Linked DNA regions of Homo sapiens: region 2 is linked to region 1. The links come from fine-mapping of genetic effects on gene expression. Tissue or cell type: whole blood. Region 1 holds a variant in brackets; the other region holds the start of a gene. All regions are shown on one strand. Distances are from middle to middle.

What was found. PIP is the estimated chance that this variant, and not a neighbour inherited with it, causes the effect.
Region 2: C8orf88 starts here. The variant in region 1 is fine-mapped to the expression of C8orf88 in whole blood (TOPMed, PIP above 0.99).

Annotation. Positions count from the first base shown.
Region 1 is chr8:90,893,883-90,902,349 of GRCh38, forward strand. The region is part of intron 5 of NECAB1 (N-terminal EF-hand calcium binding protein 1); the gene reads left to right. The region is part of intron 1 of LOC105375634 (a long non-coding RNA gene); the gene reads right to left. Among named protein-coding and RNA genes, the nearest start is that of C8orf88, 87 kb to the right of the region's middle. The variant C/T (reference allele first, on the strand shown) is at 4,196.
Region 2 is chr8:90,981,274-90,989,740 of GRCh38, forward strand. C8orf88 (chromosome 8 open reading frame 88) reads right to left here and starts at 3,965. Exons shown (of 6, transcript NM_001190972.2): 1 at 3,841-3,965. RefSeq lists a silencer at 3,989-4,148.

The sequences.
Region 1 (8,467 bases):
TCTCATGGTTGGATTTTTTTCTTCAGTTCATTATGTTGAATTTGCCTTTTAAATGATTTTACCTATGACACATCTTTAGTTCATGATCTGCTCTGACATTTTGAGAGCTGTAACCAAGATTATAATGTGGCAGGACATGATAGGCATAGGTGAGTAATATTTTTAGAATTTCTTAGAAACAGAGGCTGATTTTCATGCTGATAACCTAAAAAGCAAGGAGGAGAAATAGACACATATAGCATAAATATCATATAAAGTGGACAAATAACATATTTAATTGTATATTTCTAACAGTTCCAGACACATTTTTTCTCACATAAATATTTTTAATAATGGTTATGCTAAACAGAGACCAATTCTTCCTTAATATATAAGGAAATACATGATATTAGAAGAATAAAACTATTTTCACTTCCTTGTTAATTCTGCCTTTGAGTTCTGCATAGGTCATTTATATACATTAAAATATGGAAAACTACCTCTCACTCCCCAAACTATACAAATCAGAATATGTGGGATAAATGGAGAGATGTCTCCAGAAATAACAATTTCATACTTAGGAAAAACTTGATATGATTCCTAGCTCTGCTACTTGCTAGCATATGCCCAAGTTAATCTTTTTGCCTTCATTTCTTTCATTGTCAGATGTTGGGAGGATAAAATGATATAATGCATGTAGGGGGTCTAGTACTGCAAGTGGCCCATAATAGGCACAATATAGGCATAATAGTCATGGGACTAGTTATCTTTCTACTTCCAAGGTCATTCTCAAGTTTCATACTTTGTTATTGGAAACAATTGCTAAACATGTGGCTTGGTGCTTTATATGGATATGATGGATTCTTTCTTACAACAACAACCAAAATATTTTATTTCTATAAGGTAGAGGGGAGAATTCAACAGAGCAGCTAACTAATAATCTAAGTAAAAATTTGGAATGTTGACCCTTCAGAGAAAATTTTAACCTTAAGTCAGAATTTTACATGCTGATTTTTTTAGATAAACAGATAATAAGTGTAAGTGCTTCATGAGACTTCCCTTCATTTTAAGGATATACATTTCAGCTGATCTATGACAACCAAATCAATAGTTTAATGAAGCACAGGGGCTTGTTTCTGGGAGAACTTCAGTCTGGTGAATGCATAGAGATGCATGTATTTCCCTGAGTGATTGACTAAGCTGCTGCTTATGGGAACAGACACATATGATTGCATAGAGGCACAAATGTCTGTTAAGAAAATTATCAAAAGTAAACAGAAATTAATTCATAAAAATATAAAGGAACAACTAAAAGGGAAGCACAGCACCTAGTCAGCCATCTCCTTGTTAATATGATGAAAACAGATCATCTGCAGTGACAGAACATATACTCCTACAACACTCTTGGAAGCACAAAGGAGGTATGTGAGACCTAGCTACCAAAACTATAAATAACTCCAGGAGCAGAACTCAGTGTCTCTGAATCCCAGAGAAAGAAAACAGAAAAAGTAGTCTCAACACTGAGGAAGCATAGGAATCTTTTGAAAAGCAAAAAAGAAACAAACCAAAGGCATGTATGTACAGAGCAGGTGCCACCTCAAATCCAGTTTAATAGACACAAAAAGCACCTACTGTGTTCAGAGTGTTGCCATGTGCTAGTAATCAAAAGGAATATAATAGGAAACAAAAATTAGCCTTTGCTCTCCAATCAAATAATATAATAACAGCATTTTCTACTGTCTTGATCATTTTGTTGCAGGTTTATTTTTCAGCAGATAGAAAAAGTGATTATGTATTTGATAAAGAGAAACAGATTAGGAAATTCTGTGAAGCCCCCTTCCTTGCCCCATGAAGTTAAATGAAAATTAGTCAGATTTGTGGCCTCTTCAAAGAGAGGAGTGCTGAGTGGAACTGGCCTGTGGCCATAGAGGAAGTATTCCATAGAGAAGTATTCTGTACAATAGATCTGTGGCAGTAGCTGAAAGGGACTGTTTTCCTTCCTTTAATTGTAACTTTCTACTCCCTTTTATGTTTTCTCATGTAAATCAGAGGCACAATTAAAGCTCAACGAGCTGATGTCAGTAGGAGAATAATTTTTTCAAGTTACTCATTTTAGACCAAGTTTTGTGCAAAGTCTGTATTTTATGCAGCCTAAGAGACATTCTGCAGATGAGTCTTAAGAATTTACCTCACACCCGTAATAGGTATACTTATTCTTGTCGGGTGCTGTGTCATACCATGCATCCGTAAGTCGATGCAGAGGTTCATAAAAACGGCACTTACTAAAACCTCCCTTAGCTATCCTCCACCTTATCCAGAGAAGCTTCTTCTTTTGGAAAATCAAGCAAAACAACTAAGCTAAGACATGTTTAAAAAGTTTGAAAAGAAAGCTGTAAGGAAATACAAGAGGAAGAGTTGTTAGGTATGAGTTCTAAATTTCTTTTCAAAGAATTAATATGTCGGCCGGGCGAGGTGGTTCACGCCTGTAATCCCAGCACTTTGGGAGGCCGAGGCAGGCGGATCACAAGGTCAGGAGATCGAGACCATCCTGGCTAACATGGTGAAACCCCGTCTCTACTAAAAATACAAAAAAATTAGCCGGGCGTGGTGGCGGGTGCCTGTAGTCCCAGCTACTCAGGAGGCTGAGGCAGAAGAATGGCGGGAACCCGGGAGGCGGAGCTTGCAGTGAACCGAGATCGTGCCACTGCACTCCAGCCTGGGCGACAGAGCGAGACTCCGTCTCAAAAAAAAACAAAAACAAAAACAAAAACAAAAAAAACAAACAAACTAATACGTCAGTATGTTCAATTCTCTGCCTTCTACTTTTAAACTTAACTTCCTCGTAAAGCAATCTTTTTCGATTATCTACTCCACCCTGACTCATCCTGATTACCTACTCCACCCTGACTCATTCCGATTACCTACTCCACTCTAACTCATTCGGATCACCTGCTCCACCCTAACTCATTCTGATTACCTGCTACCTGCTCTGCCCTGACTCCCGCCAAAGCACTCACCACTTCATTCTCTTTAAATTAGCCAATTAGAATTAGTTTAGCCTGTGAGGTCTAACCCTAGCCAATAGGGGAACGACACAGCAGCAGGGGTGACGTGCGTCAGGGATAAGAACCCCTTGCCCTCCCTTCTCCAAGTGTGCACTCCATTGTTCCTTCTATATAGAAGTACCTTGCTTTGCTGAGAAAAAGAAAATTTAAAAAAAATAATTAAAAAAAAGAATTTAGCAGGTAGAAAGCAGCAATAAAATTTTCTTCTTCAATTACAAGCCAAATTATTGGCAACTCTTCCTCTTCGGTTCCCACAATCCTTAAGAGGATCCTTTGAGGGGCACAGATTTACTATAGGTCCACCACTTATCTGCGATTCCAAAATCCAAAAGCTTCTGAAAATGGAATGTTTTGGTTTTGTTGTTGTTGTTTGGTAAACTTAGCACCAAAGTCCATTTGGTAGCAAAATCTATTTTAATATTAAGAATTTTGCTGCAAAACTACCAATATGGTCATTACAGGGTACTGCTCTAGACCCTGCTGTGGGTATTATATAATTACATGACATATGCTAGGTGTTACCTCTCTAGACCCTGAAAAATTCTGAACTTTGAAATGTATCTGGCTCAATGGTTTCAATAAAAAATTAAGATGGCTATGTCATTATATATGTTATGGAAATGGATGTTCTAATTATTTTTTCAGACTATCAGATTGCATGCTTCAGCAATGCTGAAATGTAATACTATCTTATGTTTAAAAAACAAAGTAAAACAAAAAACTATCAATTCTTTGAAAAGTTTATTGCATTTCAAAGAGCAGTCAAATAATATGCATAGACAAGTGAAAATTGACCCCCAGTGGTCTGGGGAAAATGTAAATGAACTTATTAACGTTTCAAAAATGACACTTTAGGAGACTCAACTGATAATGCTTGTGGCAAGTGTATTGGCGTGAAATAAATGAAGAATGCCTTCATTTGTAGGCTTAATTTACTAAAAGAAATCAGGACTTACCTCCTGTAAGTCACTGTTGGCAGATGATTTAAATGGCTGTGAGAGTAATCATTTGATTTAAAGAATAATTCCTTTTTATGTTTTACTATTGCTACAGAATAAGATTATCATCTCTTTATAAGCTTTTTATCCTCTGTCATTTTCTGTAGTAGCTTTCCTACTTATAGCCTGTATCTTCTTTGGAGGTAATATGAC[C/T]TCAAATTTGTTCCTTGCCTATAGAACATCTCTGTAATCAAATTACAGTTGAGAAAAGCCCATGATTACACACCTCACTATCAGGCTGCATTTTGAGTGATAGTGGAAAAAAGAACTACCAAGCCTGGCTGCTCCCATGAGAATAAGTTTAGATAGGAAGTCAAGGCTCACCCCAATGCTCTCTCTCAAGTCTCACCTCCCCTCTTCCATCACTACCACCACTCAGTGCCCCAAATCCAAATTTAAAATATAGCCTTGTCTTTAGACTTAGAGTAGCACAACTTTTGTATTTAAATCAATATTGTCCCATTTCACTGAGATTAGACATCATATTAACTATTTGGGAATCTGTAAAACCACAGGACCCTAAAAAATTAACACATTTGATATTTGGGGCCACCTAGAACTGACAGTCTCCAGAAGGCCTAAAACTTCAACAGAAGTAGCAGCTCCAAGTGAGTTTGAAGCCTAGTTGCTGCTTGGACTGTGCTTCCTATTCCAATACCCCTGTCTTCTTCTCTTGCCTGGCTCATTGCATCTTCTATAATGCCCAGTATCTCATACCCATCTGTCCTTTTCACACTTAATTCAGTGTTTATTGAGAAAGAGACAGCTACTATTTATTGAGCATAATACATGTTGACCACAGTGCATACATTATCTCAATTAGTCTTTTAGCCCAACTGCACTGAGTCACTCTCACAGTCAGGCACCTGGTACATGGTAGGTACACAATCTACTTTCCTCAGCTCTCTCTTCACCTTCCTAATAGTTCATTTGTCTCATCCCAACTGAGATTCGTTCATGTGGCACAAGTATTTATGGAATACTGTGTCTGCTCAAATCCTCTAGAAACAGAAGCCAAGTGCAAGAGATATGTTGGGAGAAATGCCCTTGGAAGGTAAAGGGGAGAGGGAACAAGAGCAGTGGGAAGATCCTTCAGGCTGCCCTGCAGGTCTGGCACCTGTGAAAAGAGGAGGAAATGGAAGTTGGGCTGGCAGAGAGCCTCTGACAAAGTTTTGGCTATGCCAGTGGGACGCCCGAGGGCAAAGACTGCTCATAAGAGGAGTCCCCCCTGACTTACACCATCCTTAGTCCTTGGCAAGGAATACTGGAGAGGATGTGGCTTCAGCATGAACACTGCTGATCCCCAAGGTGTGGCAGCTGGAGATGGGTAGTTAAGCATACTTAAAACAGTTTCTCTCTGTGGTCCCTTGGTGACTGCCATAGTGTATACCAGGATGTGATTTGAGGAACATGGGCAAAAATTCAAGAATCTGTGAAAATTCAGCTTTAAAGATCCACTTCTCTTACTCTCAAAGGTTTTTCAGTCTTTAAGAGTCTAGTCTTTACAAGTTTTTAAAAGTAAATATCCCTGGGAATAGAAAGATCTAAAGTCCTAGTTACTGAATAACTTAGCAGAGGGTAGTTAAAAGCTCACTAAAAGTAAAGAGATGGGACCCAAAATTTATTTGAGCTGGAGCAAGTTTAGAAACTCTGGAACAGAGAGATGTGCAGAAAGAAATAGTGATGAACCAAAAACCAATTCCCTAGGTTTAGCTTTGCCATAGTTTAAAATATGTTGATGCTCAAATCTTGTCCCTCATGTGTGTGATATTGTACAGTACATTTGATTTTTGTATGTGTTTATTATACCTTTGATTCAGAAAGGTTTACAATGCTTCCTTCTTTGTCATAAGAAACTCATAATTCAGGTGGGTGCTTGTTTCTTATACCAGCATGAAGCTAAACATAATAGTTTGAAACTATTGAAAATATTGAAACAGAATAGTTCTGAAAATATTATTTTCAGAATATTCTGGGACCTTAACTGCACAGTATGTAGGAAGAAAGGAAACATTCCTTCCTCCCTACAGTCTGATACACTAGTGAGAATAATAAGCATTACTAAAACAACAATGAGCACTCAATGGGGAGCCTTGAAGAGTACCTTAGTGTTTAATACAGTGCTGTAAAGGCATGAACCTTTCCCCTGCCTTTCTCTATGAGTAAACTTAGTGTTGCTGCATTTTCCTTATTAGAATTATTTTCATTTCATTAGTAAAATAGGCAGTTGTTCGGGAGTAGAGCAACTGACCTTAGTCTTTATATACCAATATGGGATGATTCAAGGGTCATGTGAAATGTCAAGCTACACACAACAGAACAAGCATAATTCTGTGTACTCTGAATCTTCCCACATTGATCACTTTTGAGGCCAGAAAGTAACAACAGAAGGGTAGAGTAGGCATGACAGAATTGCTTCACCAATGGAACAAAGAGGAAAAATGGTTCTTTTCTTCTTCAACTCTAGATGAACCAGTGAACACAGACTTAGCCAGTTCCAGGATGGAAACTGAGCCCCATGTTCTCATTTCATATATTTGAGAAAACAAACACAAAGGGGTTAGTAGACTTGCCTAAAATCATAGTATGAGTCAATGGCAAAGCCCATAACCCAGTGTAGAATCTTATCCTCTATAAGGGTAGGAAAAGTATTATTCAGAATTGGGTAGAATTAGTTCTTTCCCTTCCAATCACTAAACTGTTAACACAATGCCTCTTGGGAGCATAATTAAGACTATCACTATAACCTTCCAGGTACAGGATTCTTTATCTGTTGCCATGGCAAAGGAGCAAAATCTAAGCCCCTGATTAAAATGAATGCTTTTGTAAGAAATAATCAAGATCCCTGTCAGGGTTTCATCACGCTCTTATACTCTTTGTCATTTTTTTATATGACCCCAAGCCTGGGGCTCAAAGTGCCTACTTGAAATTTCTTTTTGTTGTTTGTATAATAACTGAATTAGTTTTGCTCCAGCAGTTTCTTGATGATTTTTCAGTAAGATAAAGGTACTTTAATCAGTCTAAATACTTGAACATTTTTATTTCAGTGGTAAAAAATAGACTGAGGCAGAGTGAAGTTATAAATTAGAATCTAAAAATTTACCCTTCAACATTAATATTTTTTAGTGCTCTAATATAAAACACAGAAAACCTATCTCAAATATAAAAGATGAATATAAAATTATTAATTAAACAACTGGCAGCCTGGAGATATTCATTCCAGCATAGGCTTTGATAAATCTTTTCCTGAAGGCAGTTAAACCTTTTTGAGAAAAACCTTCTGAGGCTGATATGATTTAAGTCTCTCTGTTAAAAAAAAAAAAAAAATGGTGTTTATAAATTATGCTGCCTTTTTGCTACTCTCAGCTTAAATAGATGATGTTTCCTTTCCTTTTTTAATTGCTGGTTTTCAGCTTTGAAAAGCTTTCCTTCCAGCGGTGCCCTCAAGGGCACAGTTTTATAATCAAGAGCCTTTGACCCTTGTAGCCTCATGAGACTAGAACCCACTGTTTCTCTCCAGGTATGTTTAACACAGACCTGGGAACAATCGAAAAGCTTTTCGTGTTTTGTGCTTTAAACATCTTTTGATAAAATGGTGCAGGAAAATGACACCAGTATTCTAGTCTAGCCGAGGAGAGCTATGTGGTCTTCAGCAAGTCTCCTTAATTTATCTGGCCTTCCTTTTGAAAATGAGCAATTTGTATTCAGTGGTTCCTTCTAGCTCTATGTCTTTAGTGGGTTTGCTGATTGCCTGTGAAATTTGTATAGTACGACCATTTGACCCTGAATTTTGTTTTTCGCTTCAACAGACTATGTATACTCTGTTCTTGTCATTAATTGAATAGTATCGCTCTCTCACACTAACTTGAGCCTTGTAGTTACACACATTTAATGGAGGAATGAGAATGTTCCTTCATTAGCAAACCCTATCTATATTTAGTGTTTGGCTAAAACCTCGTTTGCACTCTCTGTATTTGTGTGTGTGTGTGTGTGTGTGTTAATGTTACATAAGTATTTGTTGAAGCATTTTAATCTATACTGCAAAAGGATGTTTTATTTCCTTCTTTAATGTACTTTGCACAGTTATATTTACAAAGGAATATTCTATAAATAATAGAGGTACTAATCCACATATTTTATTCTTTCTCTTAAAAATAAGAAAAGCCTATTTTTTGAAACTTCTCAGATTGTTCTGTTATGAAACATCACTACTGGCTGGGTGTGGTGGTTCACACCTGTAATCCCAGCACTTTGGGAGGCCGAGGAGGGTGGATCACTTGAGGTCAGGAGTTTGAGACCAGCCTGGACAACAGGGTGAAACCCTGCCTCTAGTAAAAATACAAAAATTAGCCAAGCACAATGGCACATGCCTGTAGTCCCAACTATTCGGGTGGCTGAGGTAGGAGAATCGCTTGAACCCAGGAG
Region 2 (8,467 bases), 87 kb after region 1:
AAATTAGAGCCTCTGATTCCAAAATCAGTCTTTAATTTCTGTTCACGCTACTTCCAAAATATTAATGTTATTTTGTTTCACCATATATTTGGACATTCAAGTGTTTTGTCTATAGTTCCCTTACTATCTCTGCTGCTCTTCTTCCAAACAGCTATTTATCTGTCAAGACCAAGATCAAGCTCTTGCCACTTCCTTGGAAAATATCCCCCTGTCTCAACAGGTAAGGTTAAATAAAATAGTCTACATGAAGTTCTCTAATAATAAAATAATAATAACAATAATAATAATTCCTCCTTCCTTACATTCCTCCTTCACTGGTCCCTACTGTATTTTATCACTTTTTCTAAAATATATCACAGTAAATATATTACATGTCTACTTATTGGACTATCAGTTAGTTGAGGCCACAAAAACCAGACCTTATTTATTTTTGTATTCTAGTATCTGCAACATAGATTTATTAAATAAACTCTATAAACGCTAAGTACCTCGTCATTGCAACTAAAATCTGACACCTGTATGGGACACAAGATTTCCAAATTTTGATGCCCATCAAGACAAAGTCAAAAATAAAACTCCACTTGATTTTGCACCTGCTTATCCAGAAATAATTGTAACCATATGATATTAAGCAAATCATAAGTCTAAGTGCCTATTTCACCAAGTATAAGATAGAGTTAGTAACCCTTTAAGTTCCCAGAAATGCTTTATCCTATTTTTTAAATATCTTTGGACATGTATAATTCAAATGTTAAAATTATAAACTTATAAACAACCTCTCAAAATTAGGAATGATAAGTAAGCACCCAAAAGTTACTATTTGGAGATAACCCAGCAAGTACTTCAAGTTAATACCAACCCAGCTTTGTAATGTGTCTGTTAGCTAGTATTTCAACGTGGCAAAACTAATGCTCTCTGTACTTTTTGTGCAATACAATTGGATATAACAAGATGAAAAAAAAGTTATAAGCACAAATAGAAAAAATACTTCAAATAAAGTTATTAATATTTTCTATGTAGAAGAGTATATTTAAAATAAGGACCAAAAAGCAACCTAATATACATTGCTTTATTTGATGTTTATCCTAGCTATTTTAGTTAAGACCCTAATACTAGTATGTAGTAACTTTCCATCCTGTTCCCCATATGAAACTAGTGAATCAGAATACAATAGGATAGAGTACTTTGGCACACACTTCGTTGTTTTTCATTGCTCAGCTGAAATTTAGTTGTAGGTTGTTAAGTCTTTTCCAATCGCTGAGCAAGGCAAATCCACAGTATTCAAACTAGGGATTTTCAAGAGTTGGGGATTACAGAACTCCATTATATGACTTTGCAACACAAGTAAATAAACAAAAAATCAAAGCTCTTTTGGTGCCACCTACCCTTCAATTTACAGTAGGAAAGATACAGCAATGGCTCCCTGTATATAAATCCACATCAGTTAAGGAAATTAGAAAAGATGGTGTCATTCAGTACTCTGTTTAATATTTTTTTTTAAAGTAAACGATGCCTGCAGGGAAACACTGACATTATAGGGGACAAGTTTGGGATTACAATGCATAGTACATTCCACCATCATGTTATTAATGAAAAAGGTTAAGTATTTATAAAAAGTAATTATTATTGTAAAACTGAGTCACGAGATTATAATTAAGGCAGAACTCCATAAACCAAAACCTAATTCTCAGTTTAGTTAAAAATAATAAAGACTTAACTGCACTACAAAGTCATTATACAAAACAAATTCAGTCTTAAACTCTAATGCCTGCTTCATCCATGGAATGTAGAGATCAAAAAGTTTCCCTTGAAGCTACTGGTGCTACCTAGAGTAGCCATGTATCATATCAACGATTCAAAGCACAGTTACAAAATAAACAGAATTCTGCCTACAACATTGGGTAGCAAGTAGTGGGCCTATCATAAGGTTGTAAAATGTAAATTTAAAAATGTAAATGTATAGTTTTGTGGTATAAATGTTTTTTAAAGGATATTTTGATCCAATGTCTCCAAAAAAACTTTCTATTAATACATACTGAGAAATGGTTGCTGAATAGTTTTTTTCAAGATCACACACACTTAACAAATCATCTTTAAAGACCAAGTTGTATGAATAGAATATTGGTAAATCAGTTAGTTATTTACAGTTGCTATTCTACACCTGGCAATACTAACTATATCTTAGGTTCCTTTTCTTTTTAAAAAATTTACCTAAGTATGAATCTTCAGGCCTTATCAGTCCTGATATTACCAGTAAACCTAGAATTGTCTAAAATACAATGGGATAATAAGCAGATACATTGACCACTTTGGCCAAAATCTTATTAATCTTATTTTTTAATTAAGATGCCTTTTTAAGGTCCTACTACATACTAAATATAATTTCATTTAATTTTGAGCCATATATGAACGGTGGAAGAAAATTATTATTAGTCCCACTTCACAGATAAGAAACCTGAGGCTCAGAAAAATAAGAGACATGCCCAAGTCCACATAGCTACTAAGTGCTAGATATTAGGATTTGACTACAAAGTTCACACCTTTATATCAAAACTTGCCTATTTGTTACATAAAAGAAAGATATCTGACTGTCCATTTATTACATGTGGACACTGCGTGTATAGATTTAAAAATTAATGTGAAAAGTAACATTTATTTATAAGGCCATGCAGAATAAATTGGTATATGCTAATAATATCCATTTCTTCAATTTACCATTTTTCTTAGAATACTAAATAAATTAGGGAGTACTGTGCTTTCCTCACGCTACAGACATGGTATACTGCCATACTAACCATAGATCACAGCATATGAAATATACTATGCACTGTTTTTAGAAGCTGAGTACTATACTTAAACTCCAATATAAATTCTAGTCTTCTTTGGAAAGTACTGATGCTACCGCTGCCGTTGAGAAATAAGATCATATAAAGTGAAATAATGAAATGAAAAGACCATATTTGAATTTACCTTGTGTATAATTCCCATATGATAACCAGATAAAATTTCATCTCAATTTCCAACTTCAAAACATTACAAAGTTAGGATTCCTTGAAACCCAATACTGCTTGTAAGTAAACTGCTCACACTGACAAAATGATAGATGAAGAGAAACATACAGGAAACATCGGGGAGTAAGAAATAAACCACCTATGACTCAAGTGGTGAAAGACATTTCACGTTCCATATATCTGGTTGCACTATTAAGGAAAAATTAAAACGAAAATATCAAAAAACTAGAAGCTTGGAGAGTTCCAACATATCTTCCATTTCATGCCTTCTCTTTATAACTAATTTAATTTTTTTTTTGGTCTATTTGAGGGATTTCTCAAAACAAAACACAATTTAACATTCGGATGGGCTAAAGCTGTCCAGGTAATAGGTGTCTGTGATTACTTTAGTCATGTAACTGTCCTTTCCGTAGCTTTGACTAAAACACCAGCAATGAAAACCTTGTGCCACCGGGTGGAGGGGGCAAATCGTCTTGAAAGCCTCCCACCGCCTGGCACCAGGTGCTGGGGCAGAGCCAAGGGGAGCTGTGTACTTAGCTCCTTTTTTGGCGATGGCTTTGGTCTCGGCCACTTGCCCCTCCGTCGGGCTCCCCTGGCCCCCTACACTTTCTTTCCCCTCATCCGACGCTCTCGCTCCCATCCCACTCCCATTCAGGGTCCACAGGGTACTGAAGGGGCCCTGAGAGATTTCCCGACCCACCTCAGAGCTTCTCTTCCTCGCCTCAACTTTCCCGGGGTCGGGCCTGGGAGACGGCGCCCACCCGCCTCCTCCACACCACGGGGCCCGACTTCCGTCCCCCAGTGTCGCTCATCCTCCCTAGCCACTTACCGACTCAAAATCCACGGGGATTTCGGGGCAGCAGCGTCGCCGCGCTCAGCCCACACGCGGAGGCCGAGCGCCCTGCTGCCCGTCGGGGAACGGCTCCTGCCGCTGGTCCGCTGGCTGACCGCGGTGGCGGCGGCGGGGGGCGAGGGGCGGGGGGCGAGGGGCGGGGGGCGGGGCGGGAGGCGGCTCCGAGGGGCACGAGGCGGGCCCAGGGCGGGCGCGGGGCGTGGCCTCGGGCGCTGAGCCTCGAGAGCAGCCGCACCCCTGCCGGGGTAGAACCGTTAAAAGGGTGGCGCGCGCTTTCCCGGGCGAGCTGGGCGCGTGGGGTTGGAGCGGCGCCACCCAGAGCCGGTCGTCTAGGGTAGGAGGCCGCGAGTGAGGCGCTGACAGGCTAGCCCTCGACGGGGCGCGCCCGCGTGAACGGCCTTGGGGGCCCCAGACCGTGGCCCTGCTTGTGCGAAGACTGGGAGGCGCCAGGCGGGCCGCCTGCTGGGGGCTTGGCGGCGGGTTCCAGGCAGCGTCTGTGAGGGAGGCCGCCTCTGTGAGGGAGGCCGCCGTCGTGCTGACGACTGAGTCCACCCTACTCCTGTCCCCCGTCAGAGCTGCTGGCAGGCGCTGCTTTCCCCTTGGTGCATTTAGTGGGTGTCGGGATTCGGGTTGGCAGGGAGGAAGATGTTTGAGACCTGGTTTACCTCAGACCAGGGATACAGCGTTTCACACAGACTGCCATCCTGAAAGGAACAAAATGAATTAAGGCAACTCCATCCGAATCATTTCTTTTTAATCTTCACCTTCAATCCTTTTGCTAATTTTTCATTATCTTTGAGTGTCCCCAGAGGGGGACTGTCTGCTTGTACTGAGGGACGTGGAGGTGGCAGTCCCTCACGTCCCCAAGCACCAAAAGGACAGTTGAAAATGCACTGGCAAACACTGAACGGTTTTAAGTGGGGCACTATCAGGATTTACCATTTTGGAAGGTATGAAGTTTCACAAGCACTTCCATGTATAGTCAAGTTATTGGAGCTGTCTCCGTTTAGAAATGGCTTCCAGAAACACTCCTACTATCCACTGAGACAACTCGCCTGGCATCAGAGACCTAGGGTCCAGGGTCAGAGATGGGTCATGATAAAAGGGCATCCCTTGGGGTGAGGCACCAGAAGTCTGCACAGTGGAATCAATATATTCCAACCACCAGATGTAGAAAATCTTAAGTGCAGGATGTGGTTCTCATCCATCTAGTCACAACAGAAGTTTTCTTCTTCAGGAATATACTTAACAATGAAGCATGTATAATTTTATATACATCTTACAATAAAATTATTTTGTGCATATCACTGTATGAAGTCAGTAGAAACTATTGTGACAAAAATGTAAATTGGAAGAATTCCAATTCAGATCAGTATTAGTAATTTATTGAGAGGAAGAGAGAAATTAGACTAGACAGACTCCTTGATTTTTTGATAATTGAGGAAGAAAAATGAACCATATAAACATATCGAAACTTTTCAAAATCTTATTGATAATGACATAAAATTTTGGCATCTACAAGGATAATCTAGAATTCATACCTTTACAACAAGAACTTGACAACAAACAGGTTAATGACTTTTAGCAACTTAAAGGTTAGTCACTGCCTGAGAAAACTTGAAGTGCCCTGAAATCACAGAGTTCACCTAAGAACCTTAAGATGAGTTTCCCCAAATTTAGCAATACTAAAAATTGGCATTATTACCAATAACAAATTGTGAAACTGCAATAACTTTTTTAAGCTTTCAATAACAAAAAATACATGTTGACTAACTTTGCTTTGAAAAGACTACCACATTATTCATTATCACCAGGGAAAGTGCATTACAAAATTACTGTCAAATGATGAGGCAATAAAAAAATGAAAACTAAAAATATAGGAAAAACATAGCAATGGTTCAGGTAGTTAATTTAAAATATCATTTTACTGAATTTCTAAAATATTTGTGGTATTTATCATCTTTTTAAAAATCTGTAATTTGTTGTCACTGATTTTCTTATTCTAAGTAAATATTTACTTTGGTCACCGCCCCCCATCCCTGCTTCCTGCCCTGCTCTGGCCACTCAAAGAATTGGAGAATGGATTGAGAAAAAGCAACAGTGGAAATAGATATCCCAGTTAGAAGGATAATAATTTATAATGTGTCTTACTACTTATAAGTAGAGGTTTTATTTAAACTTATATTTTCATATTTTATTTAACTCCACTTTCACAGTACCTAGAACTACACACACACACATACAAACTGGTTACTTGATCTCATGGTATGTGCTGTTTAGTGAGGGTGCAGATATGCAAACAGACAATTTCAACTCAGTAAATTAATTGTTAAATCTGGGTGGTGCCACTGAAAGCCTGGCAACTCAGAAAGCTGAAGAGGTAGCATTATCTCATGTTTACCAAATGATTTCCTTGCCAACCTCCTGCCAATAGTCGCCTTTTATTCATTTATTCCTCAAACATTTACGAAGCATTTTATGAAGGATACACTAACAAACACACAACACAGATGCTCATAATTATTATAGGAATGTGTTAAAACAGTGGTCCCCAACATTGTTAGCACCAGGGGCTGGTTTCGTGGATGACTGGAAGGGCGGGGTATGGTTTTGGGATGAAACTGTTTCACCTCAGATCATCAGGCATTAGATTCTTATAAGGAGCACACGACCTAGATCCCTCGCATGTGCAGTTTACAATAGGGTTCACACTCCTATGGGCCACTGTTGATCTGACAGGCAGCAGAGCTCAGGCAGTAATGCCAGCAATGGGGAGGGGCTGTAAATGCAGATGAAGCTTCAGTCACTCACCTGCCACTCACCTCCTGCTGTGTGGCTTGTTTCCTAACAGGCCAATGACCAGTACCAGTCTGGGGTCTGGGGGAGGGCAGTGGTTAGAAACCCCTGTGTTAAAAGCTATAATAATGACTTAGTTTCATTCAGCTCAGTTCAGCTCAGCAAAGGTTTTGAAGACCTATGTTTATGTGCTAGAAACTGAGGATACAAAGACAAACTGAAATACGACGAGAAAGGCTGATACACACTGAGGTTACAAAGAAAAACTGAAATATGATGAGAAAGGCTGATGCAAAATTAGCAAGAAGAGAACGCTAGCTTAATAATAGTGCCTATATATGAAATAGAAGATAGTATATGTAGTAGAAATGTTTACGTGGAATAAAAGAAGGACTACATGGAAAGGCATACTTCTGTTGAACGGTAGGAGGATGGAGAAGAGACATCACGAAAGGGTTCACAGGGGAGGTAATGCCTGAGCAGGATTTTTAAGGATAAAACATTTACCCACTTAGAAAAGGGTATTCCTTGCAGGTGAAAGAACAAGCCCAGAGATATACAGGAATAGAGCAGCAGCCAATAAAATAAAACATCAGTAATTCAGTACTGCAGAAACACAAAATACAAGAGACTGCCTGGTAGTGGCTTGATATTAGGCTAATAAAAGATGAAGTGTCTTTTATCTCCTTTATAAGGATATGGAGAGACACTGAAGGATTTTAGTTTGGGTTTAATAGTATTCTATGACCATTTGGGAAAAAATTACTTAAATGACAACATGAAAAATGGATTGGGAAGCAGAGTAGGCATCAGGCAAGACAAGAAGAGAGGCAGAGGAATCGGTTCAGAGGTTTACAGTAATCCAGGCAATGTTTATTGAGAGCCATAAGTAAAGGTAGATAGTGACCATAAGGAAAGAAAAGTACACATAGCTGAGAGAATAAGGAAAACTGCTAACAGTGTAGAGTGTGAGAGTGGAAAGTGGAAAATAGTGATGCCAGTTATTGACTTGCGCACCCAGAGCGATACAGGAAAAAAATAAAAAGATACTGTGATTTGCCTGAGGAGGCACAAGAGAATGGGATCTAGATTGTAGGTGAAGGGAAGGGACAAAAGCAAGAATAGGTGAAGTAGAGATTATCCAGTATAAGTGGAAGGGGTCTACTGTGGAAAGCAGTAGGACTTTCAAATTTTGAGATAGCATTTCTGGGGAATGTTCACCTGAAAACAGGTGAACACTGTTGAGGAGTCAGCTGAAGGTGAAGATCAGAAATTTATAAAGGCATTTACCTGCGTGGTTGTGAGATTCATTGGCAAATAAAGGAAGGGATGATAAATTGAAAGAATAATAAACCTGAAGTCCTCACAGTGTGAGACTTCCGGACAGAAGAGGTATATTTTCAAAGAGGTGTATTTTCAGACAGTGGGATAACTGAGTGTGAGAGTTGAGATGGAGTGGTTCTGAGTATAACCACCCAGCATGCCGCTGTAGAGGTGAATACCAGAAGTGAAAGGAAAATAAAGGTCATTAGACTTGACGAAGAACTGTGAGTCCAGACTGCAGTATTAGATAAGCCATTCACATTGACATTTAAATCAGTGGCATGTGATAAGAATAAAAACCAGGTACTGAAGTCTGCATTGGTGAGGAGGGAGTTAAAGGAGATCTGTGGATGGCGGATGGTAGGTAGAAGGGAAAGTTTATAAAGGAGTTAGGCAGGTACATAGGAAGAAACCAGAAAAAAAAAACACATGGCCTTACATAAGCTAGGGAATTCTCCACGTTTCCTAAACTCTTTCTTGAGGC